Linked DNA regions of Homo sapiens: regions 2, 3, 4, 5 and 6 are each reported to be linked to region 1. The links are microRNA targets in miRTarBase. Many come from high-throughput screens and were not tested one by one. Region 1 holds a microRNA gene; each other region holds the end of a gene's coding sequence.
What was found. The annotated mature microRNA hsa-miR-411-5p reads UAGUAGACCGUAUAGCGUACG and lies in region 1 at 1,947-1,967, shown strand. An mRNA with a match to its seed (bases 2 to 7 or 8) in the 3' UTR can be bound and repressed. Matches are read on the target gene's strand: a 7mer-m8 pairs with bases 2 to 8, a 7mer-A1 pairs with bases 2 to 7 and ends in A, and an 8mer does both.

Region 2: miRTarBase lists UQCRB as a target of hsa-miR-411-5p. Seed matches in the 3' UTR shown: 7mer-A1 at 1,663-1,669 and 7mer-m8 at 2,448-2,454.
Region 3: the mRNA of RWDD1 is a reported target of hsa-miR-411-5p. The part of its 3' UTR that is shown has no 7-base or 8-base seed match.
Region 4: the mRNA of RAB3B is a reported target of hsa-miR-411-5p. Seed matches in the 3' UTR shown: 7mer-A1 at 3,487-3,493, 7mer-m8 at 556-562 and 7mer-A1 at 193-199.
Region 5: the mRNA of GNE is a reported target of hsa-miR-411-5p. Seed matches in the 3' UTR shown: 7mer-A1 at 1,159-1,165 and 7mer-A1 at 1,488-1,494.
Region 6: miRTarBase lists ZNF621 as a target of hsa-miR-411-5p. The part of its 3' UTR that is shown has no 7-base or 8-base seed match.

Annotation. Positions count from the first base shown.
Region 1 is chr14:101,021,394-101,026,467 of GRCh38, forward strand. MIR411 (microRNA 411) reads left to right here and starts at 1,932; the gene lies at 1,932-2,027. It overlaps LOC124903407 (mucin-2-like), which reads left to right. Exons shown (of 5, transcript XM_047432049.1): 5 at 1-5,074. MIR379 (microRNA 379) reads left to right here and starts at 673; the gene lies at 673-739. MIR299 (microRNA 299) reads left to right here and starts at 2,401; the gene lies at 2,401-2,463. It also overlaps MIR380, MIR1197, MIR323A and MIR758.
Region 2 is chr8:96,226,851-96,231,924 of GRCh38, reverse strand. It overlaps UQCRB (ubiquinol-cytochrome c reductase binding protein), which reads left to right. Exons shown (of 4, transcript NM_006294.5): 3 at 1-151; 4 at 793-5,074. The coding sequence ends at 870. Among named protein-coding and RNA genes, the nearest start is that of UQCRB-AS1, 5.9 kb to the left of the region's middle.
Region 3 is chr6:116,592,161-116,597,234 of GRCh38, reverse strand. RWDD1 (RWD domain containing 1) reads right to left here. Exons shown (of 7, transcript NM_015952.4): 7 at 1-4,255. The coding sequence ends at 4,134. Among named protein-coding and RNA genes, the nearest start is that of RSPH4A, 22 kb to the left of the region's middle. RefSeq lists silencers at 112-312, 62-362.
Region 4 is chr1:51,915,678-51,920,751 of GRCh38, forward strand. RAB3B (RAB3B, member RAS oncogene family) reads right to left here. Exons shown (of 5, transcript NM_002867.4): 5 at 1-4,437. The coding sequence ends at 4,250. Among named protein-coding and RNA genes, the nearest start is that of NRDC, 39 kb to the left of the region's middle.
Region 5 is chr9:36,212,934-36,218,007 of GRCh38, reverse strand. It overlaps GNE (glucosamine (UDP-N-acetyl)-2-epimerase/N-acetylmannosamine kinase), which reads left to right. Exons shown (of 12, transcript NM_005476.7): 12 at 408-3,567. The coding sequence ends at 643. LOC124902151 (a long non-coding RNA gene) reads left to right here and starts at 3,997. Exons shown (of 2, transcript XR_007061474.1): 1 at 3,997-4,722.
Region 6 is chr3:40,532,663-40,537,736 of GRCh38, forward strand. It overlaps ZNF621 (zinc finger protein 621), which reads left to right. Exons shown (of 5, transcript NM_198484.5): 5 at 1-5,074. The coding sequence ends at 428. Among named protein-coding and RNA genes, the nearest start is that of ZNF621, 10 kb to the left of the region's middle.

The DNA of each region.
Region 1 (5,074 bases):
GGGGTTCAGGACTTTAGAGGACAACCGAGCTGTCCTGCAGGGCTGCTGAGGGTTCTGCCCTTGTCCTTTCCCTGGAGGCTAACAAATCATTGCTTTGCATTCCATTCACATGGGATAGTTGTGCCATGAAAGGGGATGGAGAAAATCAAGGAAGACCTCCTGAAGGAGGTGGAGAGGTTAATCAGGAGCTGGAGGAACGCACTGCCCACTCAGCTCTGTGGTTTGAGTCTCCAAAGGTGGTCTAGAGCATGGCGAGGACCATCGGAACTTGGGTGAGCTAGGGAAGTTTTTACCTAGAGGTTGAGGGTCCCCTTTTATATGATGAACTGTGCTCTTGGAGTGTCCCATTTGCCATGCAGAACAAAACACTGCCCTTTATCTTGATGAAGAGATAGTTGACCACATAATGGCCAAAGCATGGTCAGTATTGTACATTTTGCCTTGTCGCAGTCTTTCCAAGTTGACATGGCCTTCCTGGAGGAATTACCACTTAGGGTAGAGGCACCCCTTCCCCCATCAATGCCACTGCCCCACATTGGAGGAGGGGTTGTTTATGTTCACCATGTGCCTGCTTCCAATGCCAAATCCAGCCTCAGAAAGCTTTCTGGAAGTGACGCCAACTTCAGGGGCAAGGCCCTGGTTCTGGGGTCAGCACCATTCCGTGGTTCCTGAAGAGATGGTAGACTATGGAACGTAGGCGTTATGATTTCTGACCTATGTAACATGGTCCACTAACTCTCAGTATCCAATCCATCCTCGGAGGGCTTCCTGGAGGTGTTGCCAACTTCAGGGAAGAGAACACGTGGTTTAGCTTCAGCACTGCTCCACGGCAATTTCTGTGGCTCATGGTTGATGTCTGACTTGTGCAACAAGGCCTGGCTCTTCTGGGCACTAAATGCACTCTCTGGGGAGTTTTCTGGAAGTGATGCAACTTGGGCTCAAGACACCGGTTCCAGCCTCAGCCGTGGTTCTGGAAGAGATGATTTGCCATGTGGCCTGTGCGAAAGGAGGGATTTGTGTGAGATGGGCTACCACTTCCCAGTAGCCTGCCAGCTTTGGAGGGCTTCGTGGAGCCAATACTACCTTCAGGGGGACCCACCAGTCCATCCTTCATTCCGCTGTGTGGCATTGAAGAGTTGCTTTCCTGTGTTGAAGTTTTCTGTTTATACCAATGTCCACCTCTGATCAATCTTACATTCAGTCTCAGGGTTTTCCGGAGGCAGTGCCAAGTCTGGGAATGAGACAGTGGTTCTGTCCTTAGGGAGGTGGTTGACCAAAACAACTCCTGCTTTGTTCATGAAGATGGCATGGTGGTTACTGCTCAGAATCTAATCCAACCTAAGAGGACCTCCTGGAAATGCCCTTGGTATTGAGGCAGATATGGCCTTAGGGCACTTTTTTTTTTTTTTTAATGCCCAAGACTAGAGCTCACTAATAGGTAAGATCTGGGCCTCAGGTGCCCAGTACTGTTTCCTTGGCCTGGTTAGTGTAACTAGATGGATGTTCTTTGGTTGCACGTGGGCCATTTTGTATTTCTGATTTTCTCCCCACTCCCCTAACCAGCTCTGTTAGCCATGTGCCATGTCCTCCCTCCCATCTACCCACTCCTTCAGACCCAGCACAGTGCGCCTGGCACACAGCAGGCACTTAATCAGTATTTATGGAGTGATGAAATCCATATCATCGTCCACTTCTTCTCAGTGGGACTTTCGGCCTCGAAGGGCTTCCTGGAGGAGTTGCCAGTTTTGGGGATGAGCCACTGCTTCGAGCATTCATGTCAACCCCCGACCATGAAGACGAGACTCCTGGCCTGTGTGTGCTTGTCGCATGATGCATGTGCTGTGCTCAACCTCCCTTCTGGTTCCACCCAGCTCAAGGCCTTGGAGGGCTTTCTGGATGTGTCCTGAGCCTTTGTCCTCGGCATCTCTGTGTGGTACTTGGAGAGATAGTAGACCGTATAGCGTACGCTTTATCTGTGACGTATGTAACACGGTCCACTAACCCTCAGTATCAAATCCATCCCCGAGGCTCCTGGAAACAACGCTGTCTTCGGGGAGGAACGGTTGGACCCACCACCACTTCTCCATGACACCCGAAGAGATGATTTTCTGTATGGCATGTGTTTTTCTGCATGATGCAAAATGGCATAATCTCGCTCCTCTTAAATCAAGTTCTGCCTTGGGAAATCGCGCCATCCCTGGGGAGGAGACCTTGATTCTTCCCGGAATCAGTGCCATTCCATGGTGCTCAATGACGTGGTTGACTACGCTACGCTTATTCAGTAGACACCGTGACCTGCTTCTTCTCAGCGTCAAATGCAGCCTAGAAGAAGCGCCCTCAGGCAACTTCGTGGACATGAGCCTTCTTCCAGCCACCACCACCACCATCGTGCGGTACTTGAAGAAATGGTTTACCGTCCCACATACATTTTGAATATGTATGTGGGATGGTAAACCGCTTCTTGGTATCCAGCCCAGCCATCCAAACCTCCCTGGAGAAAGCCTGGAGTTAGAGGAGAGCCACGGGTCTCGGCATCCGCCATGCCATGGCACTTGGTGGAATGGTAGACTCTTAGATGTGTGCTTTCTCTGTCAATGCTTGTGATGCGGTCTTCTCCTCAGTGCCAAACACAGCCTCCAGTGACTTCCTCAGGACAAGGATGACCTCCAGGAAGGTGTCCTACTGCCCACGTTGGCACATCCCTCTGGAGTAATTGAAGAAACGGTGGCTGGTGCCGCAAATGTTCATGAACGAGGGATGTGAAACAGGTCACCTCTCATCCTCAGAGCCCTCCTCAGATGACTTCAGGACAGTACGCCCATGTAGGAGCAGATATGGGTCCAGGAGATGATGCCACTCCAGGTACTTGAAGACGCACTGACTCGTTTTTGTCTTTGCTGATGCGTGTACAGTCTATCTTTTTTCCATCTCAAGTCTAGCCATCTCGGGGGAAGATGTCCCAGCTCTGGACTCAGCACTGATCCTCATGAAGAGCTGCTCGACCCCATCGTGTATGTTTACAGAGGAAGTGCCTCCATGGCCCACTTCTTCCCTATCTCCATCCCAGAACCCTTGCTTGGAGAACTTGCTGAAGAAGCTGCCAGCCTCAGGGACAGAGCACTGGTTCTGGCCTCTTCACTGACCTCACGGTACCTGAAAAGGGTTCAGCCACACTGCATGTCTTTTCCCCATGACGTATGTAACATGGTCTACTTCTTTTGAAGTATCCCATTCAGCCTGGAAAGTCTCCAGGGAGGTTATGTTAAGCTTAGGAGACAAAGCACCAGTTCTGGTACAAGTACTGCCTCGGGGTACTTAGTAGAAGTTGGCCATGCTTCATATGTTTTACTTACAACGCATGTTACTTCGTCCACCTTCCTATAACAGCGTGCACCTCGGGGGGCTTTCTGTAGGCAGGAACGAGTGTCAGTCATAGCACTAGTTCCAGCATCATCTCCATTCTTGAGGGGCTCCTTTGTGCTGCGTCCACTGCATCTGCGGCAGACATTGCATGGTGGCCTCTTCTCAATACTACATCAGGCCTCAGAGGGCTTCCTGGAGGTGATGCTAGTGAGAGGAAAGAGACACCGGCTCTGACCTCAGCCCTCTCCAAGGTACCTGAAAAGATGGTTGACCATAGAACATGCGCTATCTCTGTGTCGTATGTAATATGGTCCACATCTTCTCAATATCAAATTCAGTCATAGAGGGCTTCCCAGAGAGAGGCAAAGTCACCTTCGTGGGAGACACACTGATCTGGCTTCAGCGCCATTCCACAGTACTTGGAGAGATGGTAGAGCATAAAGCATATGCATTGTTGAATGACAGATGTAGCATGGTCCACTCATTCTCAGTATCAGCCAGCCCTGGGGCTTCCCGGAGGCCATGCCGACTTGAGAGCCAGGCCTGAGTGGTAGCCAGGGTGCAGTGCAGGTCACCGGGTGGTTGGCTGCAGACCCAGTCCTTTATTTATTACATTGGCCATTTGGTCCACCAGCCAAGAACTCAGTACCGGTCCCACCCTTACAGGGCATCCTGGAGGTGGTAGTGGCATTGGATGTGGGTTTGTGGTCATTGCCACATTGCCGGTGGCTGGTAGTTCATGATGCGCATTGTGAGGCTTTCTGGAGGTGATAGCAGGTGAAAGGAAGAGAGCCAGGGGTCAGCGTCACTTCCTGGTATTTGAAGATGCGGTTGACCATGGTGTGTACGCTTTATTTGTGACGTAGGACACATGGTCTACTTCTTCTCAATATCACATCTCGCCTTGGAAGACTTCCAGGAGGTGATATCAGCTTTGCGGAAGAGCCACTGTCCTGGTGTCAGTACGGCTGCTGCTTGGTACTTGGAGAGAGGTGGTCCGTGGCGCGTTCGCTTTATTTATGGCGCACATTACACGGTCGACCTCTTTGCAGTATCTAATCCCGCCTTGCAAGCTTTCCTGGAGCTAACATCAACTGCGGGGGTGGGGGCCACTAGGTCTGCGCTCAGTGTGACCCAGCGGGGTTTGTGATGTGTTTGTCTTGTGTGTGACGATAACTCACGTGTGGCAGCCTTCTTCTCAGCACACTGCTCTGGCTTGGCAGCAGGGTTAACTTGCGGACAAGGAGCGTGGTGTCAGCACGTGCCTGGATACATGAGATGGTTGACCAGAGAGCACACGCTTTATTTGTGCCGTTTGTGACCTGGTCCACTAACCCTCAGTATCTAATGCCCCCTTGGAGAACTTCCTGGAAGAGGTGTCAACTTTTTGGGAAAGAGACAGTAAACTGGGGCCAGCTGCACTCTGTTAGACTCTGAAGAGAGCATCTGCGAGGCGTTTGCGACATGTATGCCAAATGTGGCTGAGTTGGACTGATTTTCACTCCGATCTCTTTCCTTGGAGGGCTTCCTAGATGTGGAGGCATCCAAGTTCAAGGGAAGGGGCATGCTGTCTATACCATCCCAAAGTCCTCCAGTGATCAGCTGACCTGAGTGTATGCACTTTAATTTACAACCAAGGTCGCCTGGCCCGTCACACCTCAGTCTCCACTGGGTCCTTAGCAGGACCTTTGGTGGAGTCAGCCTTGCTTTG
Region 2 (5,074 bases), not on the chromosome of region 1:
TACAATATACGAGGATGAAGATGTAAAAGAAGCCATAAGAAGACTTCCTGAGAACCTTTATAATGACAGGATGTTTCGCATTAAGAGGGCACTGGACCTGAACTTGAAGCATCAGATCTTGCCTAAAGAGCAGTGGACCAAATATGAAGAGGTAGCACAGCTTTATCTACCTGACAGTGTTGCTCATTAAGGATGGAGTTTTAGAAACAAGAGAAACATGTTCATTTGCATAGTGTTAGAGTTCTCTGAGTCATGTCAAATAAATATGTGAGGTTAATAAAGCAAATGTTATTTCCGTTTTAGAAGAAAACCACATTGAGTCTTACGTGTGAAATGATTCTTCTGAAATTACTAAGCAAGTCTCTAATATAGAGAGCCAGGACTAAAATCCAGGTCTGTTGCCTCCCAGGTCTTTGCTGTTCCAGCTCTGCACTCTGCTTCCTACTTAGATGAAAAGATCAGCCCATTGAGTGTCCCTCCAGATCCCAAGAAGAGCTTCTGTGAAGCAAACTCTCACCCCTTGAACTGCATTGAAACTAGGCAAAGGCCTGTGGACATTCATTTCTTTTTCTTCCCGAAAAGACTTCCCCCTCATAACCTATCAAAGCAACTTATCACACCATCACCACAGATTTGACATTTTAAAAAGCAGATAGTTCTTAGGTTGAGAATATGTTTTCTAAAATTGGAAATTCAAAAGTAATTGCTTTTTTCTTGTTATTGAAGACCTGTTGAGTGTTTGGGATATATCAGTACGTGATGGTAACATATAATATTTCATTCATTCTTTAGGAAAATTTCTACCTTGAACCGTATCTGAAAGAGGTTATTCGGGAAAGAAAAGAAAGAGAAGAATGGGCAAAGAAGTAATCATGTAGTTGAAGTCTGTGGATGCAGCTGTTATGAAGATGGTTAAACTTGAAACAAACAATTTTAAGAATTATTTGGTCTGAAGATGTTTTACTTTAAATAAATGTCTATTGTAATGGCTGGAGTTTTTGAATTCCAAACCTTATACTGAATAACTACTGAATCCCTTTACTGTTAAATTTTTTTCCAAACTTTCAAGATATATTTAGTTGTGTTTAACTGCTACTTGGAGCTCAGAAGCCACTTTATCAGTTTTCCTCACTGGTTGGATAGCCTATCAGTTTATGGAAGGATATAACTTCCGTAAGTTACATCCTTATGGAAGCTACTGAATAAAAGAAGGGGGTATGCACCCCCTAGTTTGCCAAGATTGAGAAATAGCCTCTTCACTGGTATGCAAACAGATTTGATTTTGCATCCTATCATTTAAAAAGAAATTATGTCTGCACCCCAACATAGGCATACTTAAGTAATATACATACTCCTGTGCTAACATGTATACTAGAAAACAAAAAGATGTTAGAAAAATAAAAGTATAAAGACAAATCATACTGTCCCCATATCCCAGTGACTTTTCCACTTTGGAAATGATTGTTATGAAGTTTAAGGGTTGGATACTAGTCAGTTAAAAGTTTTAAGATTATAGGGTAATTTTTAAAAATATAAATTAGAATCATTGGCAAGGCATGGTGGCTCATGCCTGTAATCCCAGCACTTTGGGAGGCCGAGGCGGGCGGGTCACCTGAAGTCAGGAATTTGAGACCAGCCTGGCCAACATGGTGAAACCCTGTCTCTACTAAAAATACAAAAAATTAGCTAGGCGTGATGGTAGGCACCTGTAATCCCAGCTACTCGGGAGGCTGAGGGAGGAGAATTGCTTGACCCCAGGAGGTGGAGGTTGCAGTGAGCCTAGATCACACCACTGCACTTCAGCCTGAGCGACATTGACTGTCTCAAAAAAAAAATTAGGATTATTCAATGTTGTCATCATTTCCACTCCTAAATTCTGAAATGCTTTCTTTGGTAGAGGTGAGAGTGTGGAGCCACAGCTAGTAGAGAAGGAACAGTAGGACCTGCAGCCTCCCTGGTTTTCCAGGACAAGTCATTGCTGTGTGTGGCAGGAATGCCTTACCTCAAATAACAAAACAGTGTGAAAAACGAATTTGTGTTACATTTAAAGTTTGTAAAGCAATGAGAAATGTGTGTATCATAAAGAGCATCTTTAAATTTTTGCTAAAATATTAGCCTCTTAAATTCTCTAGGAACCCCCTCCCCCGCTTTTTTTTTTCCTTTCGCTGGTCGTTATTTTTCTAAACCTATCCTGAAATCATGTCAATTTTCTTTTGTATGGTTGAAGACAACTAGATCACTTGATAATGGTTTTGCTCAGGTCACATTGTGACAAGGTTTTAATGTAGTCCTACTTTGCAGAAGGAGGCCAAGAAGATGGGCTGTCTAGAACCCCCTTTAAAAGCATTTGTCTATTCAGAAAATTTTCCTGAGTAGATCTCTGCAAAGGCTCTTTTAATAGTGATTTCAAGATCACGTTTGCAGGACTCTGGTCTATTCGTTCAGACGTCTACTGTGCACAATTACAAGGAGACTACAACTGAGGCATCTCAAAGAGCACTGTCAAGGTGTGTAGGGAGCCGGGTGGGTGGAGGGAGGCTGGGCTCTGACCCTAGAAACCATGCTTATGAATGCTGTTAATGTTTAAAGCAAGCCTAAGGGCACTGCTGAAGGACAGGGGAACAAATAGAACTGACCAAGACTGAGGTATAACAGGAACCCCCAGGCTATCCACCTGCTCAAGGTAAAGTGTGGTATTACATAAGGCAACCTCTGATTTTGTAAGAGTTCTTCCTAAAGCCAAAGTGTATGCCTATTCTATGTTTCCAGATTACTTCATTCTTCTAAATGAGAACAAGTGTGCAAAAGTTCTTTGAACACTAGATCAATGTTTTGTGTTCATTATAAATTATGGTTATCGTCCTGCTTGTTATGAAGACTAAGAAAGTAGATCTAGTATTTGGCTCACACAGGTGAATGGGTGAGAATTTGTTAATCCATCAGTGAAGTCCTTTCATTTGAAAGAGAGGGCCTTTCTATTATCAAAAGCCGTCCTGTGTGGAAAATCACCATGAGAGTGCCTGAAACACAGGCACTCTGCATTGTCCTGTAGACCAAATCTACATTGTCCTGTAGTCTGGTCTACATTGTCCTGTAGACCGAATGGTAGAGTGATTCAGAGCTAATTCTGGGTTAGACTGCACAGGTCTGAATCTATTTGCTCACTGTGTAGTGCTTTAGGAATACAATTTAACCTCTCCGTGCTTCAGTTTGTTTGTCCCTAAGATAGAGCTAATGATAGAAACCTACTTCACCCAGTTGTGAAAATTAACTGACTGCATGTCAAGCACTAACAGTTTCTGGCATATAGTATGCATAATGTAAATTATGTGCTGAGAAGCGAGAAAGAATAACTTGGGAAAACGCTGAATATCATCAATGTCGAATAGCTAACCAGTAGCTAAGGTCCAAGGTCTCCTCTCTTCCTTCTATGTGGCACTCTTGTTTCTGGTTCATCTACTCCCCTTGGGTGTCACCTCCTTGAGTGAAGTACCTGCTGGAGATGAGAAGAGTGGAACTGGATCTGCATGACAGCTTTGATTAGGATGGAGCTAAGACTTGGCTATCTCCCTGTTTTGTGTTTTGGATGGGTGACATTTTAAAACTGCCAATATTCAAATCCTGCTAATTTGCTTTGTACAGTTTAAAATGTTTGATATCTTTTGTTGTTTAAAGTTTGAGATTGGTTTTGAATATACAGTTTTCCTACATCTTGAAGAAAGTTATGTTTGTTTACTCTGAAGTGGTCTATGTTCTGTTTGTTTGTTTTACTATACTTTGCAAAAAAACAGATGGCTGGCTTATGTTCACTGTTGTAGTGCACTACCTAGTATCACTTGGCCTTCCTGTTGTCAAGATGTAGGAAGCAGCGTAAGGGATGTCGGGCCTTCAGACCCCCAATTGCCAGCTGTGGTCCTAGTTCCAGATTGCATGGAAATATTTGATAACATTCCTGCACTGAGTTATCATGGTCTGAATATTTATGTGACGCTCTACGAGTGGTACCAAAATGTTAGTGATGGAGTTTTTACTAATGGCACCTTTTCCTGTTTTTAAATTCTAGAATCTTAATAAATCCAAAGTGTACATTTTGGTAGTGATTTCATTTAGTTATTTACTTTAAGGACTCCCTTTTCAAGCATTAACTCTGCACTAATTTTGACTTATGAAAAGATTCAGCAGTAAGAATAAAAACTGGGCCAAAGCCCAAAGTAATAATCCTTCACAAATAGGATGGAGTTTTAAAAATATGGGCATCCTGTGTGTAGCTTTGAAAATAACCAAACTACTTGGAATTAAAAAGTTAGGTGAACATGAAGATTGTCATAACCAAATCCTTGACAGCTTGATGGATGAAGAGCAGATGGGTTTATGGTGTATGGGAGGAAGCATGGATTTTAGGAGGGACAGTATCAGAGAGGGATGGTTAGAAAGTGAGTAAGACAGGTTGCTCTTTGGAAAACAAGGAAAATCCCTTTATTAGAACAAGGCATGAAATTCTGCCACTAGGTGGCGATGCCCTATAACTTTACAACTTAGTGTACATCACACGAGCACTATGGAAGATTTCTCCATTCTGCGCCCCACCAACTCCCTCCCCTCCTTCATTTTTCAGGATGACAACACCTTAGAGGTTTATGGCCATCAGGAGAATTTACTACTAAGCTATATACTGATGTAATGAAATCTAATATATGTTGTGCAATGAATTATGAGATGTTATTTAGTTTCAGGATTTTATTACTTCAATCAGTTATGACCATATTTCCTTTTATATGATTGCTCACTCTTTAAACATACCAGATGACTGTATAAGGAACACCTAATAAAGTCTATAGATGTTAAAATATTTTAAATGTTTTAATTTATATGCCATAATTTGTTTACATTCTGGTTATACTGGCGTTCATATTAAAAGCCATAACATGTTAGAATCTGAGATCTCAGGTCGGATAGTGCCTCTAAGTTATATTTTGCTAAGAAATTTTATTGTATTAGCAATTGAGCAAGAAAGAAGAACTGAATCATTATACGGTGGTTAATTTTTAGCATAGATGTCAGAAAGCCTGTTAAT
Region 3 (5,074 bases), not on the chromosome of region 1:
TCTTTCTCTCTCTTTTTTACTTCAATTACTTAAAAACATCACCACTAGTCTCTCTTTTTCTCACTTGCTATCTCTCCCCTCCCCTCACCTCCTTTGCAGCAACCCACTGCTATCTTTCTCCTCACTTGGTTCAGTATTCCTGGAATATTTAGCTGCATGACAGGATGAAGATCCACAACTAAATACCATTTAGCATTGATGGTTCAGTACCGTGGACAGCAGCACTCATGTTGGGAATGGGCCTTACTGAAATCGCAGAGTGACTTTGTAAGTTTGGTATATCACAGAATAAATTTGTTGGCGTGGCTACAAATGGATAAGGTGCTGGCCAGAATATTAAAATTCATGGCCGAATTAATTTTTTTTTCTTCCCTTCATGGAGGGGAGGAAAAAAAAAATTAACATTATCACAAAGAAAGGCTGGCGCATAGTAGCACTCAAATACCTTAATTGAATGAACTTTTCACCTTAATGATAAAGAGTGGCTCAATATGTAGGCGTATTTGATGGCTCTTTTAAAGTGATCATTCCAAATCAATAACTGCAAAAGAAATTTGTGTATTTTTTTACTGTGCTGTCCATGGTGTCAATGAATATAAGGTTGTCAAAAGTTGAACTAAAAAATGAGGACTGAGTTGAGATTCAGTCACTAACACAGGATAATGCAAATTAGTTTTAGATGTAAAATTAAAAACATCATTGGCTATTTTTATGACAAAATTTTAAAAGTCCTTTCATGGCTTTGTCCAACAATTTAAATGACCCCATCATCCATCCTCTGACACAAGTAACTTAAGTGAAAGGTTACTTGAAACTTCACCAATGGAGGCCTGAAAATTTAACAATATACTTTTCTGGCAGCATTCTTTCATCTTTGTCACCCTGATACAGTTCCTAAACAGAAAACAAACTAATGCTACTCAAATTTACATGTTTACATAAACTCACATTTCATGTGTCATCTGTTCTGAAGAGTCTTTTTCTAAAATTAGTTCCTACAGTTCTTGAAGTGTGTGACTCTCATTTTGACACACAATCATACAATGGCTCCAACTTTTGCTGCCTGACTCGTATGTCCTCTGAAAGACAAACATTAAGAGCTATGTGAAGTAGTTCACTTACTTTTCTGTTACACTTCATTACACCTAAAAGGGCTGCCACACAAATACTGAACACTTACAAATCATCTTCTTTCTGGAATACAAGAGTGCATCTCTTTGCTTCTTGGCACATGTATCTCTGGAGTATGACAGTACGATCAGTGAACTTGTCCTTTAAATTGATGAGATGTTATTATCACTCCTCTTAGTTTTACCCCAACTGGGAAATGTTCACATAACCATTTAGACGTGTTGCCTTAGATCAGCATTTATCCAACTTTTTCCCTAAGGCATCCACCTCTGCTGGCAAAAGTGCATGAAGTAAAGCAGGATCAAGGAACATTATTCCAAGTTGTAGATGGCAAATACAACATTTCTTTGAACTCTCATGCTTTACTTTAAAATACATTAGAATTAATTTTGCACTCTATTCTATAATTCATTCATTCAACAAATATTAGGGACCTACTGCATGCCAGGCATTATTACAGGGATACAGTAATGAATAAACATATCTGTGTTTGTTTTTAACCTAGTGACATTTTAATACAACTGGCACGAGTAGAAAAACAAAAACTTTACCAAATCAAAGAGCAAAACCGATAATCCAAGATGGAACAATTATTGCTTCAAATACCACTCGTCATGCTATTGCAACCTGAGAGTATATTTGCACCCATTTGAGCAGCATAGTCTTGGGCTAATTCCCAGAATACAAAGCCAACAGTAAATATTTACTCTAGATGAAAATATTTGAGAATGTTATTAGAACTAACTAGGTTATTAGAAGACAACTAGGTTGTCTTCATTTTACCATTAGATTCTGCCTTTAGGTTCTGAAATGGCAAAGGTGGACATCCACTTTAATACCTGGAGAAATATATAAAATTTATTCTTAAAAATCACATGAAGTGGATGGGAGGTTATCATTCTTGACACTTCAAAGTTAAGTCTTGATTTCAGCACCACATTGCTAACAATTGCTTTTTATTTTTTTTAACCTTAATTGAGCAGCTTCTTCCAGGTTCTTATGTATCTGCTGATCAGCTTCAAAAAGATGGGAAAAGCAAAATCTCACATAGGACAAACTTTTGGATTTCTCTCTGCAAAGAAATGCTGAACATTCCTGTTGTTATTCCATTCTATTGGTCTGGGATCAAGGCTGACGTGAAGATTCCTTGAAAAGTATTAAACTCCTCAATGGTAATTTTATCTTAAATAATTTGCTTTTTGATTATAAGGTCTAACTCCAACAATAAATGAAGGCTTAATATTGCTGTTTGTGGGTATGTGGCATATGTATTTTTTACTGGAGGCAGCTCTTTATAATAGCTTTATGAATTTAAAATAGCACAACTGATTTCCTATTGGGGTTAAGAGTCAGTCCTCCAAAACTGTAGTGACTGAATAACTTGCATGAAGACTGGCTCTCCTACCTGGAGCCACCAAGTCAATCATCCCAAATTATTACAAAGGACTCTATGTGCACGGATGTTAATGTGTTTCTCTTGCAGACAATGTACGATCCCCAAAATTCAAACTCCTTCAGACTGGTTAATTAGAGAAGAGGTAAAGAAAATACCAAAATATATAGACTTCACGACTACAGGACAGTGGTTCTTAACCCAGATTGTGCATCAGAATAATCTGTAGAACCAGTATGAGATTTTGCTGTTTTAAAATTCAGACTGGGGATCAGTGTTCATAAATCTAACTTGAGAGGGGCCTAGGAATGCATACCTTTTAGAAACTCCACAAATGATTCTAATTTAAATACTGTAATTTAAATTTTAATTTAAATTCTAATTTAAATACTTTAAGACTGCTATGGTTTGGATATTTGTCCTCTCCAAATCCCACATTGAAATTTAATCCCCAGTGTGGTGGTGTTGGGAGATGGGGGCTGGTGGGGTGTTTGGGTTATAGCAGGTAGATCCCTCATAAATAGATTAATGCCTTCCTGTGGGGAGCAGGGGTGAGGGAGTTCCCACCAAAGCTAGTTTAAAAAAAAAAAAAAAGCCTGGCACTTCCACCCTCACTCTCTGGCCATGTGATCTCTACACACATAGTGCCTCTTCCCCTTCTACCATGAGTGGAAGCAGCGTGAGGCTCTCACCAGATGCAGATACCCAATCTTCAACTTTCTGGTCATCCAGAATTATGAGCCAAATAAACCTTTTTTTTTTTTTTGAGACGGAGTCTTGCTCTGTTGCCCAGGCTGGAGTGCAGTGGCGTGATCTCGGCTCACTGCAAGCTCCACCTCCCGGGTTCACGCCATTGTCCTGCCTCAGCCTCCCGAGTAGTTGGGACTACAGGTGCTCGCCACCACACCTGGCTAATTTTTTGTATTTTTAATAGAGACGGGGTTTCACCGTGTTAGCCAGGATGGTCTCAATCTCCTGACCTCGTGATCCACCTGCCTCAGCCTCCCAAAGTGCTGGGATTACAGGCGTGAGCCACCGCACCCGGCAAACCTTTTATAAATTACCCAGCCTCAGATATTCCTTTACGGCAATACAAAATGGACTAAAAGGAAGGCTAAACTTCATCTTACTTATGATCATAATATGGCCTCCTGGTTTTATCAAGACTTAAATTTAGTGTGCCTGGAGGCTAGAATCTGGATGGTTTAATGTGCTAGTCACCTCAGTTTTCTCACACTTCATACAATGCTTGAAATCCAGAAGTAGCCAAAGTCTCCAGCATAGAAATTCCAAGTTATTCCAATTTCCTGTGTATAAACTCATGTGCACAGCAGCAGCCTACCTTCGAGTCTTGGTGCTATAGGCAGGATCTCTCTCAAATACTAGGTGATTTTAAATACGTAACCTTGTGCTCAACAGTAAGAAGCCTTGAACATTTTATATTTGAAATTTTAAGGTCAGTTTATTAAGTTCAATGATGAAAGCTATCAGAAGAATATTCTCCTGAAAATAATTTTTTCTTAGAAAAAAAGAAAGGAAAATCATAACCCTCTGAGCATAGCCACAGATGCTGTGGCAGTCAAGCCTCTCTGCAGATGGGGACAGTCCATTAGTCAGCTGAGTCACTCTCTGGGTCAGCAGGATTATAGTCTGGATCATCTTCATCATCCTCCAGCTCCAAGTCATCCATTTCTTGGAACAAAGACTCATCTACCTCCACGTTGTTTCCAGCTGCAAAAGGCAACCAAAAAAAAAAAAAAATCTCCTTTAGTCTTATACTCAGAAATAGAAGATAAAACTCATTGGCACTACCAAACAGAAATCTCCAAATCTGCATATGAGGTAGGAGTGATGAAATCCCAAACTACAGTTATCAACAGTGATTTGCATTGGTCAGTAGAGACTCTGAAATTTTAAGAGCAACTTCATGTTCCTAGTTCATAGTCTAAAAATCCAGTTATTAAAAAAAGCTTACTAGAATTTATAATGTAGCATTTATATGTTGAAGACAAGGATAATATGTTCTCCTGGTTATAGAAAATTGATTATCACTGATCATGGGACCTGTATGAGGAGTTATCTCTTCCAGTAGTGGTAGATAAGCACATCGTTAAAGCTCAGCCATACTTGTTAATTAATTGATTTGATTTGATCTTCATTCTCACCCAGTTCCCCTTTTAGCCAATGGTATGCCTTCAGTTACAATGTCTAAAGCCTACAGGAAACAATACCCAGGCTCTGCATTAAACATCTTCACTCTTCAGTGTGTCTGAAGTAGGTAATACAATTAAGTCCTGGCCAAAGAATAACTGGCTCTGTCTAGGAGACATAGCAAAGGCATCATGGAGCAAATGAAGTCTGAAATATCTTCATGATAAATTTGAATCCACCAAGAAGAAAAGGAGCCAGGATGAAGCAATTTTAGGTAGAAGTATACACAAAGGCAGAGAGAAAATATAAGACCTTGAATAATTCTAACTGGAAGATGAAATTCCTGAGAAAAAATACCTGAAAGTAACGTAGATGAGGGCCAGATTTGAGAAAGATTGT
Region 4 (5,074 bases), not on the chromosome of region 1:
TTTTGTTGTTGTTGTTTGTTTGCTTGTTTTGTTTTGAGATGGAGTCTCGCTCTGTCACCCAGGCTGAAGTGCAGTGGCACGATCTCGGCTCACTGCAACCTCTGCCTCCCAGGTTCAAGCGATTCTCTGCCTCAGCCTCCTGAGTAGGGATTTCAGGTGCCCACCACCACGCCTGGCTAATTTTTGTATTTTTAGTAGAGATGGGGGTTTCACCATGTTGCCCAGGCTGGTCTTGAACTCCTGACCTCAGGTGATCTGCCCACCTCGGCCTCCCAAAGTGCTGGGATTACAGGCATGAGCTGCTGCGCCCAGCCAGAAGTCAAGAGTTTTTAAATATTTTATTTGGATTGTTGAGGAAGATTAAATCCAGGACAAGTTGCCACTAACACATATTACACAGCTTGAACCTTGGTGGCTAATTGCGCTATTACTGTGATTGATGAACACTATGCTGCAATCAGCTGGAAGCTGCTGCCTTTCATTTGACAGAAATGAGGTCACAGAGCAGGGCTGGGGAGCTGCCATCTCACAAGCAGGTCTGGTTGTCTGTTGCCCAGTAGACAAGCTTGCCACTATAACATTTAACTCTTGATTCCATCTATTGTGAAGATGCTTGTTCCCTTGAACTGGCTCCTGAGTTTTACAGAATTTGACAGTTTTAAAGAAAACGATTTCATCTTTGCCTGGATATTCAGTAGGAGAGAAAAGATTATTGGATATAGATACTAAAATATCCAGGCGTCATGAGGACCTTGGTCTGAAATCCTAGTACTAGAGTAGGTGAGTGTTAATGACCAGAAAAAAATAGTAATTATCCATGACACTGTATACAATGTTACAGTGTAAAAATCACACCCAGAACCACTGCCCTCTGAAGCAACTGTATTATACCCATGGTCAGAAAAGTTAATCAAGTCACTCTTCACAAATGCCCCATTGCTGGAGCATAGAGGCTGTTCAAAGTGGAGCATGGAGGCTCCTGCTGATTGGGAGCCTGATAAGTGTTGCCTGGCAGAGGCAGATACAGGGAAAGCCAGCACTTGGGACTGGGAAGCACTGGGCATTTTCTACCCAGGCCCATGGGATCTGTTGCCTCAGAGACTGACTCGCCTTTCCTGAGCATTAGACATCCATCACCTGGGATTAGTCTGAGTAGTTGAGCAATTTGTTAACAGATTAGAGATATACATCTTTTCTCCAGTGGACTTGGAATCTGATGGCCCTGGAATTGAATCCTAATGTGGCTTTAACACTCTCTTGGTATGTGATCCAAGTCTCGTAATCTCTCTGGATCATAGTTTGTCTATAAAAGATGCAGCCCAGAATGTGGTTAAGAGCACAGACCTTGGAGCCTACTGCCTGGATGTGAACTCCAGCTCTACCACTTACTTATTATGTGACTTTAGAGGTCCAGCTAGAACCTCTTTGTACCTTTGTTTCCTCATCTTCAAATGAGGCTCACTATAGTGCCTCCCTCACAAGATGTTGGGAAGATAAATGAGTTAATGCACGTAAAATGCTTGGAACAATGTCTAGTACAGAGTAAGCATGACATCAGAGTTGGCCGAGACAACTCTTGGATGCCAATCCTGATCTCTCAGGTTTGTTTGGTGGATCAACTGAAATGGTGAAGGTGAAAAAAAAGAGACACCGAGTTATTAGTGCCAAAAGAGACCTTAAAGATCATCCAAATAAGCTCCCTCATTTTATAAGTAGGAAATCAAGACTCAAAAGTGGAAAGTAACTGGCCCAGAGTCACAGTTGATTTAATGACAGAGTCCGGGTCTCCTGATTCCAAGTCCAAAGCTCTGCTCTCTGCATTGCATCAAAGAAAGCAACATCTTTGTAGAGCTGACTCCTTTAAAAAAAAAAAGAGAGAAAGAGAGACAGAGAGACAGGGTCTTATTCTTACTCTGTCACCCAGACTGGAATGCAGTGGCATAATTACAGCTCACTGCAACCTCAAATTCTTGGGCTCAAGCAATCCTCCTGCCTCAGCCTCCCAAGTAGCTGGGACTACAGGCATGCACCATCACATCTGGCTAATTTTTTTTTTTGTAGGGATAGAATTTGACCACATTGCCCAGGCTGGTCTCAAACTCCTGGCCTCAAGTGTTCCTCCTGCCTTGGCTTTCCAAAGTGCTGGGATTACAGGTGTGAGCCACAGCTGGATGGTCCTTTTATTTAGTCATTGGACTGGTTGCTAGTTAATTACTTTTCTAGGACAATGAGCCTCATTTGAAATGAAAAGAAAACTGGCGAGAGACTCCTCCTGCCCGCTGACTTTTGAGGTGGCTGAGGATTCAGGCCATGATAGAGAAGAAAGGTTTTCTGGAATCACTGCCAGTTCCATGTCATTATTTCAGCCAAAACAAAATATGTCCCTGTGGCCAAGCAAGCTAGAATAATGAGCTAATTTATTCTGGTCTCTGAGTTTCTTTTATTTTTTTCCTCAGGTATTTAATTAAGGGGCTTCCACCAGAAGTGGTTTCCCACACTCTCTGGTAGAAACTAAGGTTTCACTCCCAGGAGAAAGGGGTTGGGATCGGGATCTCTGAGTTCAATTTTCTCAATTTTTTCAGAGTCATGCCACCTTAAGATTTATTTTGCTTTGAATCATACTTCTCAGTTAGACTGCTCAAGAGCAGTTAAAAGATGGATTGGAGGAAAAGGGCAGGATAGGGAGAAGACCCTATGAAGAACAGCAGATGGAATTATAGAGGTATTTGACCTAGAGAAAAGGCAAGTCCCAGGAGTCATGATTCCTGTTCTCAAATAGTCTGAAGACGTCACAGGGCAGAGGGAGCACAGACTGTGAAGTCTCTGACAGCAGAGCTGGTACCAACAGGGAGGGAAGAAGAAGAAGAATTTCCAGGAGGCAGATTTGAGCTCGATACAAGGAAAACTTTCTATGAGAGTTGACAAAGATGGTGTGGAAAATGAGCTCCTGTCCCTGCCTAGAAGGTGTGCTTTAAAAGAAAGAGATTTGATTGTTAGGCTTGACAGTCACTTGTCAGAAAAAGGAAGGTTAGAACTGACTAGTCAGACTAGGTAAATTTGGGCATCCCGTCAAATCTAAAATCCTCAGGTTCTAGGAGTCTAAGAACTAATAACCAATTTCACTAAGTTCCCACAGTTAAGAACCAACTGGAAAGCAGCAAAATCAGAAACTCATGATCTGTTTCTTGATCTTGCCTGTTTCTCTTTTTCTCTGTTTGTCTTTCTTGAGCATACCTACTTGCTCTTTCATATAGCAGGAACCTCTGACATTTTGTAGGGGATAATCCTTTTCTCTTTTTTTTTTTTTTTTTTTTTTTGAGACGGAGTCTCGCTCTGTCGCCCAGGCCGGACTGCGGACTGCAGTGGCGCAATCTCGGCTCACTGCAAGCTCCGCTTCCCGGGTTCACGCCATTCTCCTGCCTCAGCCTCCCGAGTAGCTGGGACTACAGGCGCCCGCCACCGCGCCCGGCTAATTTTTTGTATTTTTAGTAGAGACGGGGTTTCACCTTGTTAGCCAGGATGGTCTCGATCTCCTGACCTCATGATCCACCCGCCTCGGCCTCCCAAAGTGCTGGGATTACAGGCGTGAGCCACCGCGCCCGGCCAATCCTTTTCTCTTAAGTGTGTTTCTGACTCAGCCTTTGCTCCTTCAGCATCATTAGAGAGTCTGAGCTCTCTGAAGATTAGCTCTTCCTGTCGCCACAGCAACTGCCCAGGCCCTGTGGGCATCCGTGGTAACAGGCGCAGGGCTTTGAGAGCCCAAGCTTGACTTGTAGTGAGAGAAAGCCCCGCAGGGAGCCCGATAGGAAACAAGCACGTTGTGCTTTGAGAAGTTGTCTTTAACAGGATTAGCTATGCAGGCGAGCCTCACTTTACGCAATTGGCATGCCCCTGAAGAATGTGTGCGTGTCAAATTTTGGTAAATGGAGGAACTCTCATTTTAAAGGCAGAAAAGAGACTGTTCTCTAAGTCCCTGTAGTGAATCCCCTTCGTAAAACAGAGTCTTCTTTTGTAAAGTGATTCTGCACCCGTGTAGTGACCTGTTATGTTAGTCTAGTGCTGAGTATCTATTACTGGGACCATCTGCAGAGAACCCCAGGGGCAGGCAAAGAATAGCAGCAACTCATCTTGCTCTGAGTGTGGGCAGTGTGTAACAGGGAGAGTGGGCTGAGAGCGGACAGTGTGTAACAGGGAGAAGCAGACTGGGTGTGGGGCCACAATGAGGGGAGGTCAGGAAGGTGGGCCTTGCCTAGCATGAGCAGTTCTGCTGCAGCAGCGGTGGGGTGTCCGAGAGACGCGTGTTCTTGGAGGAGCCCAGCATCGACGGGTCTGTGTCCAGCGAATCAGACATCTTGTCACAAATGGCATCCACCAGGCGCTCAAAGGCCTGCCTTACACTGATGTTCTCCTTTGCACTGGCTTCAAAGAAATCAAACCCTGGAAAGAGGAGAGATACAGATAAGGACTTTTCCCATCCCTTCTGCTGGAACCCTTCTGTGCCCTCAGCCCAAGCACTCTGGATTAATATGTCCAGTGCTCAGCAGTGAAGCAAAGAGGCTAAATTCCACGGACATGGGATTCTGCTTCAAGGAGACGGTACAGGGCAGGAGTTTCCTGCACTGGTCTTTCAGTCAGACTGATCCTAGCTCTACCACCGCCCAGCTGTTTAATTCCGGGCTGAGTCATTTATTCTCTTTACAAATCAATTTCCTGGTTTGTAAAAAGGGATAATTTTACCTACTTCATAGAATTATTTCAAGGATCAGGCAAGACAATGTATGTGAAATATATAACCCTGTGCCTGACACAGAGGGGGTCATTAGTGTTTGCTGACAGAGCAAATGCATAAACGTGTGTCCACAGCACCTTACAGTTTCCAAAGCACTTATCACATAGATTATTTTATTTGATCTTCATGTTGCCCCTGAGGAAGGAGTCTCAGTCAGATCCTCTCCACTTCACTAATACAAACACTGGCTTACAGAAGTAAGCTAGCTTGCCCAAGATAAGGAAAAGCACCAGTATGAGAAGCCCAGGTTTTGGACTTTTTCGCAGGGATTTTCCTCCTCTTTCC
Region 5 (5,074 bases), not on the chromosome of region 1:
GGCAGCATTGCCTTTTTCAGCAGGTGGTTGGTTTGGTTTGACAACTATAAAAATGCTCCTTTCATTTTACAGGAAATTTAGAGAAATATAGGACAGTTGTAAGAAAAAATATCACTTAGTTTTCCCATTTGGAGGTATCAACTATTAACATTTCCTTCGAGTCTTTCTATTCATTTTTTTGCCTAGTGGAGATCATGTGGTACACCCGGCTTTTTCCACTTGAGGCTGTCACATGATCATTTTCTCATATTAAGAATCAACCGTGAACTGCTTTTAAAACACTGCCTCCCACTGCATGCCGTGGATGTTCTTTAACATTTCTGCTGCTGGCTCTTTTCTGCCTTCCTCTTTGGTATTTTGATTTTGGCTTCTCTCAGAAACTCATTTTAATTTTTGTCTCCCTATAGCTGGAACAGCTTTGGGTCTTGGGGTTGTGAACATCCTCCATACCATGAATCCCTCCCTTGTGATCCTCTCCGGAGTCCTGGCCAGTCACTATATCCACATTGTCAAAGACGTCATTCGCCAGCAGGCCTTGTCCTCCGTGCAGGACGTGGATGTGGTGGTTTCGGATTTGGTTGACCCCGCCCTGCTGGGTGCTGCCAGCATGGTTCTGGACTACACAACACGCAGGATCTACTAGACCTCCAGGAACAGACATGGACCTTCTCTCCAGAGCTCCTGAGTGGAATCAAGTTCTTGTCTTTAGGATGACCGTTTCTTAACAATCAAATCTGGTATTGAACTGCAGGTGACTTTGGCAGAGAAATGTTTTCACTTTTGGTCTCCTCTTCCAGAGTCACCTTTCCCCACTCCTATTTTTGTAGATGCTATTCTTTCTGATGTCTTCTTACTAGGGGTCATTTTAGCTCAAACCCTGTAAGTTACAGTCACAATTTTCTGTGCCAAAGCAGCTACAATAATAGAGAGGAAGCCTTCTTAGAACTCTGCTTACTAATGTATTAATACCACTGAGACCTTCAGGCCTTGCCTGGGATATCACTTCATCCTGAAGTTTGCATTAATAATCCTTCCAGGCCGGGCACAGTGGCTCACGCCTGTAATCCCAGCACTTTGGGAGGCCGAGGCGGGCGGATCACGAGGTCAGGAGATCGAGACCGCCCTGGCTAACATGGTGAAACATGGTGAAACCCCGTCTCTACTAAAAATACAAAAAATTAGCTGGGTGTGGTGGCGGGTCCCAGCTACTCGGGAGGCTGAGGCAGGAGAATGGCATGAACCAGGGAGGCGGAGCTGGCAGTGAACTGAGACCGCACCACTGCACTCCAGCCTGGGTGACAGAGCAAGACTCCATCTCAAAAATAATAATAATAAATAATAATAATAATAATAATAATAATAATAATCCTTCCAGCTGGGCGCAGTGGCTCACGCCTGTAATCCCAACATTTTGGGAGGCCGAGATGGGCGGATCACCTGAGGTCAGGAGTTCAAGACCAGCCTGGCCAACATGGTGAAACCCCATCTCTACTAAAATACAAAAATTAGCCGGGCGTGGTGGCATGTGCCTGTAGTCCCAGCTACTCGGGAGGCTGAGGCAGGAGAATTGCTTGAACCCGGGAGGCGGAGGTTGCAGTGAGCCGAGATCATGCCACTGCACTCCACCCTGGGTGACAGAGCGAGACTCCGTCTACACACACACACACACACACACACACATCCTTCCTCCTCTAACCCCAAACTAAGATCACAGAAGGTGATCCAGTCAGAGAACAGAGGGAAATCTTACCAGGAAGGGCTTAAGTACACTTTTTTTTAAAACAGCTTTATTGTTTTTAAAGCCTACAATTTGATAAGCCTTGACATATGTATACCTGTGAAAGCATCACCACAATCAAGACACTGGACATATCTATCACTCCCCCATCTCAGATATCCCCCCTAATCCTGGATACCATTTGTTGAAAGATGTTATTACTCTAGCTGAACTTACAAGAGACTTTAGACCAGGGATCTAAATTACAGTGGCCTTAGTGACCTTGTCCTTATCTTCTTAGGACAGCTGAGAAGCCACTGGGACTTAGAGCCTTTAAAAGGAGATTAACTGTCCCAAAAGGATCTTTGCTACTGACCAGCAGACACTTCTTCCTTCAGTAGCCTTTCATACTGTGTTGAGTAACACCCTAGGGTGTCCATTAAAGTTTTGAGTTTTACCTAGAGCCCAGAGCCATGAATCAGGATTCTGTCTACATGATTCGTGTTTTCATTGGTGTCAAAATACAAAAGCCAAAGTTCTGGCTATGAATTGTTAACTTGGAAGAAATACTAACTGCCACCACTTATTAAGTGCCTACTGTGTGCCAGGCTCTGAACTAGGTGCTTCATATACATTATCCTAAATTATCTCAACATATGAGGTAGGTGTTTTAATTTTTATTTTATAGAACTTGGTGTGTTTGACTGTTAAGCTATGGGGCTAGAGAGAGGGTTTGATCCCAGGTCCCTCTGTGCTTTTGCTGCTGAGCCACACAACCTCTCATTTCAAAAACACTTTCAAAATGCTAACATATTCTAATTCACTCTAGGCCACCAAAAACTTTAATACTAATATCTGATTTGTAAATGACTTAATGTATCCTTGACCCTATCAGCTGAATTTAATGAAATATTCCTCTCTGCTGTGAAATTTTACCAGTATAGTATTTGGTCTAGTGACAGGTGTTCTATTTTTTTGAGACGGGTCTCACTCTGTCACCCAGGCTGGAGTGCAGTGGCTCAATGCAACCTCTGCCCCCCAAGTTCAAGTGATTCTCCTGCCTCAGCCTCTTGAGTAGCTGGGATTACAGGCACATGCACCACGCCCGGCTGATTTTTTTTTGTATTTTTAGTAGACAGGGTTTCACCATGTTGGCCAGGCTGGTCTTGAACTCCTGACCTCAGGTGATCCGCCCGCCTCTGCCTCCCAAAGTGCTGGGATTACAGGTGTAAGCCATCACACCTGGCCCTAGTGACAGGTTTTTATGGGTACTTTTAGATGATCTAAGAAATCATGTGCATATATCTTTCAGATTTCTATTTTGGGAAAATGAAGGTTTCTACAACATATTGTTTCAGTGTTCAAATAAACTGAAGGACTCAACATTACATTTGAACTATATCCTTCCTAGTGGGTTAGTGTGAAAAAGAGTTTGGCTGATTCCTAAAACTCTGCCAGCCCTGCAGTAATCTCCAGGGCCTGGTTATTGTTCAGACATTCCATGGTGATTCCTGGGAAGGAAGCTTGGCTGCTCAGTTTCTGAGTCTGGGGTGAGATAATGTTCTGGGAAGGGACATCTGTTCTTTGGTGTAATCTCTCATGGTGAAATCTGCTCTGTACATCAGACAATTGCATTGCTACCAAGTTTCATACCAAATATTTGAAAGGATGGTATTGAATCTAAAACCAAATATTAGTTTTTATTAAACTCATGGGAAGGCTAATATATTCCAACGTAAATTATTACATATGGTTAAGTAATTGCATGTTAATTTATTTTAATGTAAATATTTTTGTTACTGTTCTGAGCCAAATTCTAAAGAAAAAATAAATACATTTCCTTGTTGAAATCCTGTTGTATTTTGTTTTGTTCGTAACTCATTAGCCAAAAGCATTTTCCTTCCCAGAAGAGATTTAATTGTTGCACTGCTTACGTTTTGAAGGTTATATAACTTCCTTAAGGCCTCTAATATCATTGCTTTCTTAACCAAAAAAAGTCTATTAATAGAAAGCATGGCTGGGCATGGTGCCTCATGCCTGTAATCCCAGCACTTTGGGAGGCTGAGGCAGAAAGATTGCTTGAACCCTAGAGTTCGAGACCAGCCTGGGCAACATGCCAAAACCCCATCTCTACAAAACAATACAAAAAAAATTAGCCAGGCATGGTGCAGTCTCAGCTACTCAGGAGGCTGAGGTGGGAGGATCACCTGAGCCCGGGAAGTGGAGGCTGCAGTAAGTTAGTTATGATCATGCCATTGCACTCTAGCCTGGGCGACACAGTGAGACCCTGTCTCAAAAACAACAAAAACAAAACATTGCTATATATAACATTGAAAATTTGGCATAAAAAAGCAAAGTAGCCCCCAAGAAAGAGGTTTGAAACTAAGTGTTAAGCATTTACTGAGTCCCTAGACCCACTCCCTCTTTTTATGAGGCCCTATGTGGGTCTCATACAGGCATTAGAAACAATCCCAAATTACTATTGCTGTGTAACCTCAAAACTGAAGAGCTTAAAACAACAGTAATTGTTTCACGTCGTGGTTTCTGTGGGTCAGGATTTGGGAAAGGCTCAAACTTGACAGTTGTAGCTCAAGAGTATCCTGCACTTGTAGTTGTCAGCTGGAATAGCACGAGGCTGGCTGGCCAGGCATCTCCCAATGTGTGTGGTTACAGGGTCTCTCAGGTGGCCTCTCTGTGGGCTAGTTTGGGCTTCCTCACCACATGGGTAGCTTCAAAGGTAGAATTTTTTATGAGGCGGCTCAGGGCCACCAGCTAGTTGCTCCAACAAATCAACCATCAGCAGCACTGCCTTTTATGACCTAGCCTTGGAAGTCATCCCAGCATCACTTTTGTCACATTATTCAGTCACCTCTCCATCTAGAGAATGTCACAGATTTTGTTGACATTTAAAATTGCCACCTCCCACCTCAAGAAGCCCAGCTGGTGTGGGAGGCAAGACTGGTCCAGACGATGGCACCAAGACTACCAAAAATAAGCTGCCCCAGGTAGATGGCCATGGGAGTTCAGGGGAAGGGGGGTGGCCTTTGAACTAGTTCTTAAATTGGATTTTGACATTTGGAATGGGATTAGCAGGTCCCGTAGGAACAAAAGTCTGGGAACAATGATTGCTTGATTGTAATAAGATTTGACTAAAGGGGGAGGAATAAGCAGAGGCCAGAAATGTGGGCCAGGTCAAGGAAAGCCCAACTAAGCTTGGAAACGGGGAGGTAGCAGGAAAAGTAATGAAAGCTCCTTCCAGCCAAAAATAATTAACATTGAAGAGATAGTGGCCTTTCCTTCTTGGCAATGGCAACACCTAACCCCCATCCTGAGCATAGTATTACAGTTTACCTCAAT
Region 6 (5,074 bases), not on the chromosome of region 1:
AAGCCTTCACCCAGAAAATAGCCTCCATTCAGCATCAGAGAGTTCACACTGGGGAGAAGCCTTATGAATGTAAGGTGTGTGGGAAAGCCTTCAAATGGTATGGAAGTTTTGTTCAGCATCAGAAATTGCACCCTGTGGAGAAGAAGCCAGTCAAGGTCCTTGGGCCATCCCTGGTCAGTCCCCAGTGCTCCTCTCCAGCCATACCTCCTGTTCTTCTCCAGGGATCCTGTTCTGCTTCAGCCGTAGCTGTGCCTTCACTGACCTTTCCACATGCTGTGCTCATTCCTACCTCTGGGAATTTTTTCATGCTGCTGCCTACATCTGGAATACCTTCTTCATCTGCCCAAATAGTGCGTGTCTTCCAGGGTCTTACTCCCACTGTGAAACCTTCCCCAGTTATTCTCACCCCTTCTTCTCACTCCTCATGAGCTTTATCTTGGCAGTCTTACGGCTCTTATGCCTAGCAAATCTCCAGCCTAATTTTATATATTTTTTTGAGAAAGGGTCTTGCTCTGTCACCCAGGCTAGAGTGCGGTGGTGTGATCTTGGCTCACTGCAACCTCCCCCTCCTGGGTTCAAGCGATTCTCCTCCTTCAGACTCTCGAATAGCTGGGATTACAGGCACGCCTCACCACGCCCAGCTAATTTCTGTATTTTTAGAAGAGATGGGGTTTCGCCATCTTGGCCAGGCTGGTCTCAAACACCTGACCTCAAGTGATCCGCCTGCCTTGGCCCCCCAAAGTGCTGGGATTACAGGAGTGAGCCACTGTGCCCAGCCTCCAACCTAATTTGAGTTTCATTTGTATTTTTTTCATCACCTTACATGTGTTAACAGCTGTTTCAACATAAACTCCATTATAATCTATATACATTTAAAGACCGTGTTTACATAATCTCTTCTGGGTAGAAAATGGAAATACTTAACCTTTGCATTGGTCCCTTTCAGGCTTGAACAACAGTGGCTGTATCTGCATCGTGGGGTTGCTGGTGGTAGAACACTTTGGTGTTAGGAAAGTTTGGAAAAGAGGATATCCCTGTATTAGGCCATTATGATTAGAGATAAGCAGCCTGGGAGAAACATACAAGACCTGTGGCTACTGGTAGAGAATTGGAATAAGCTTCCAACAATGGACTGTAGAGATTAATGGAGATTGTTTAGTGGGCCCATGGCTAGGTGGGGTATTAATACAGTTGAAGTTATGTTGCCCTTGGCACAGATCTTTGAGAATCTCATACATCTGTGAAAAAGATAATGTGAAATAAACAGTAAAAAAAAAAAGTATGTTGATGGCAGTGAGAGTAATCATGTCTTTAAACGTGAAGTTTTTTTTTCTTTAGTTTTGCTCTTGATAGCTAGATGTTTCTTTTAACTTTTATTTCGTAAGTAAATATACACAAAGGCATTCATCTTTGTTGAATCTGTTGTGCAGATTTTTCTTGATGAGCATTCTGTTTTTTTTTCTTTGTGAGCACTGGCTTCTATATTTTATTTCATATTTATGAATTATAAATATGAATTTAATTACTAAAGAAATAAAAATAATGGTGTAAAGCCAACTCGAGGGGAATCTGAATAAGCTTCCAAAATTTTTTTTTTTAAGAAATAAAGGGAGCTGTGTAGTGGGTCAGTGGCTAGGTAGGTTAGTGAAGTGGAATTTGGGGTTGCTCTTGGAAGTGGCCTTGATGAGGATCCTTTACAACTATTCAGAGGACTGTGTGAAGTAGTTACTGGAAAAAGAACTTGAATTATGCATTTATTGGCATTAATGTAAACAGTAAGTCCTAAGCTTTGATGGAAGGGTCCATACATTTTTTTTTTTTTTTTGCTGATGTTGCTATCTAGATGTTTCTCTATAGCAATTAATAGCAAAACCTTTACATTCTTGGTTTTTAAACTTTACCATGTGTCTGAATTACATAGTGTGCTTGTAAAAAGAAGAGTTTTCTCTCTTGCACAAATTCTGATTTTGGCTATCTGTGGTGATGGCCAGATCTTTAGCATGGACCATACTTTGAGAGATATGCTTCAAACAGAAAATGCCCACCCCTCCTCCTTTACCCAGCATAAACTCTATGGTTAATTCTTAAAATAATGCCTTACAGTCTCCATTAACTCCCTTGCCCTTCTCTTGCTTTGTCATGCTCGCTTGGCAAAACCTCATCTCTGACTAAATGCAGTTCTTTGCCTTCTCTGTTCCTGCACCAAAAATGATCAGGAGAAAGCATATTACCAGGCTGAACTGTCACTTTAAATTCATGACCAGTAACTTCATGGAGGCCCTTAACGTTTCCTGATGGTCATACTACAATTTTTGGAGTCCACTTAACTCCCCTGCTTTCCTAGGCCACTACTTTATACTTTCTCTCTTCTGTAACTTCCAAAGCATCCCTCTCAGTTCTCATGCTCAGCTGATGGTTATGTTTCTGCCTTCGGCGAGAGAACAGCAAGCTCCAGAAAGTGGCTGCGCCTTCAGCCCCGTGCTAGAATGAGAACATATGGAGCCAACTTGAGTTCGGAAGGGCTGTGGCCACCTCGTTTCGCCCATCTACTTTTCACCTTGCCGTATCTGATTCTTCACCACCGTATTCTCAGTCACTTCCACTAAACAGTGCCAGTGTTTTAAGGTTCTGTCACACTCAGTAACCCACTTCTGGTTCCTCATTCCGTGTCAGTGATCAGCAGTAGACTGAAGAATCTACCTTAGATTTGCTCCATACTATTAATTAGCTTACAAAATGTCTAAGAGGAGCTAAGCTGGGATGCCACATAGGCAGAAGCCAGGAAAAATGACCAACCACAGAACCAAGTGGTTCCAGTGGAAACTCAGCAGCTGCTGGTGCCTGCTACTGGACTGCCACCCCCCATTGAAGAGACTGGACCACCAGGAAGGTCGTTTCACATTCTGTAGTAAAAATACCCCTACAATCATTTTGGTAGGGTCTTCTGTCTTCAGCCAGGGTGTACCTGCTCGGTGGGAGTTGGTTATATATGTATGTCCAAGTTGCAGGGGCTTCTGGGAAATACAGGTTTTGGATTCTGCCTGGGAAGAGAGTCATAGTATGAAGAAGTCTGAAAATGGGGAAGGGATTTTCAGAATATGTTGAGCAGCTGTAAAATATCAGATACCCATTATAGGCATTGAAGGTTACCTAAATGACAGAAGGATGCACTATATTCATGGGTAGGAAAGATTAGTTTCATCAAGATTTCAATTTTTATCAATTCATAAATTAAAAACAATATAAAAATTCCAGAGGGGTGTGTGTATAGAGAGGCAAAGGACACAGAGTAGCTAACCTAGTTTTGAAGAACAAGATGGGGGGTTTTATGCTACCAGATATTATATACAATGATCATCAAACACAGAACAAAGCAAAAAACAAACTCCCCAAACCCAAGTTGAAACAAAAAAAACCCCCAGACTGTAATAGTATTATTATTATTTTTTAAGATGGAATCTTGCTCTGTTGCTCAGGCTGGAGTGCAGTGGTGCAATCTTGGCTCACTGCAACCTACACCTCCCGGGTTCAAGTGATTCTCTTGCCTCAGCCTCCTGAGTAGTGTGTGCCACCACGCCCAGCTAATTTTTTAATTTTTAGTAGAGACAGGGTTTCACCATGTTGGCCAGGCTGGTCTTGAACTCCTGGCAGCCTCAAGTGATCCACCCACCTCGGTCTCCCAAAGTGTTGGGATTACAGGCGTGAGCCACTGCACCTGGCCTGTAACATGATTTGCTGAAATTTTTAAAAATCTTAAATAATGTACTGTTTAGAAATATACATATTTTATACAAAATTATAAAGAAAGCATAGAGAGGTAAGCATTAGTGGCACAGCTGAGAAAATATAAAAGGTAGTTCTGTCTCTATCCTGTCTCCTTTATTCTGCTACTGCTCTCATTCTGTCTCATCCCAGGAATCCAGTCCCAAGTGCTGCCTGCCAATCGTCCAGCACCCTCCACCTTTGCCACCTATTTCTTGTTGTAAAACAGATGTTTGTTTCTAAAATATAATGAATTAATGATTATCAAAGTACAGGCATACCTCATTTTATTGCAGTTTGTTTTATTGTGTCTTGCGGATATTGCATTTTTTACAAACTGAAGGTTTGTGGCAGGCCTGTGTTGAGCAAGACTATCAGTGCCATTTTTTTTCAACAGCATGTGCTCATTTCATTTTTCTGTGTCTTACACAGAAACTTAAAATATTTCAAACTTTTCATTATATGTGTTTTGGTGATTAGTGACTTTTATGTTTCTATTGTAATTGTTTTGGGGTGCCACAGACTGCATCCATCTAAGACAGTGAGCTTAGTTGATGTGTGTGTGTGTGTTCTGATTACTCCACTAACTGATGGTTCCCCATCTCTCTCCCTCTCCTCAGACCTCACTATTCTCTCAGACACAACAGTATTGAAATTAGACCAATTGATAACCTTACAAACACCTTTAAGTGTTTAAGTGAAAAAGTCACATGCCTCTCACTTTAAATCAAAAGCTAGAAATGATTAAGCTTAGTGAGGAAGGCTAATGTCAACAGCTGAGATAGGCCAAAAGCTAGACTGCTTCTGCCAAACAGTCAAGTTGTGAATGCAAAAGAAAAGTTCTTGAAGGAAATGAAAAGTACTTCTCCAGGGAACACATGAACGATAATAAAGTGGCCAGGTGCAGTGGCTGACACCTAGAATCCCAGCACTTCGGGGAGCCAAAGCGGGAGGATCCCCTGAAGCCAGGAGTCCGAGACCAGCTTGGGCCACAAAGTGAGACCCCTGTCTCTACAAAAAATTAAAAATTTAGCTGGGTGTGGTTGTGCATGCCTGTAGTCCGATCTACTTGGGAGGCTGAAGTGAGAGGATCCCTTTAGCCAGGGAGTTCGAGACTGCAGTGAGCTATGATTGTGCCACTGCACTCTAGCCTGTGTGACAGAATGAAACCAAAAAAAGTGAAACAGCATTATTACTGATATGGAGAAAGTTTTAGGGGTCTGGATCAAACCAACCACAAATTCCCTTAAGCCAAAACCTAATCCAGAGCAAGGCCATAACTGCCATTGTATGAAGGCTGAGAGAAGTGAGG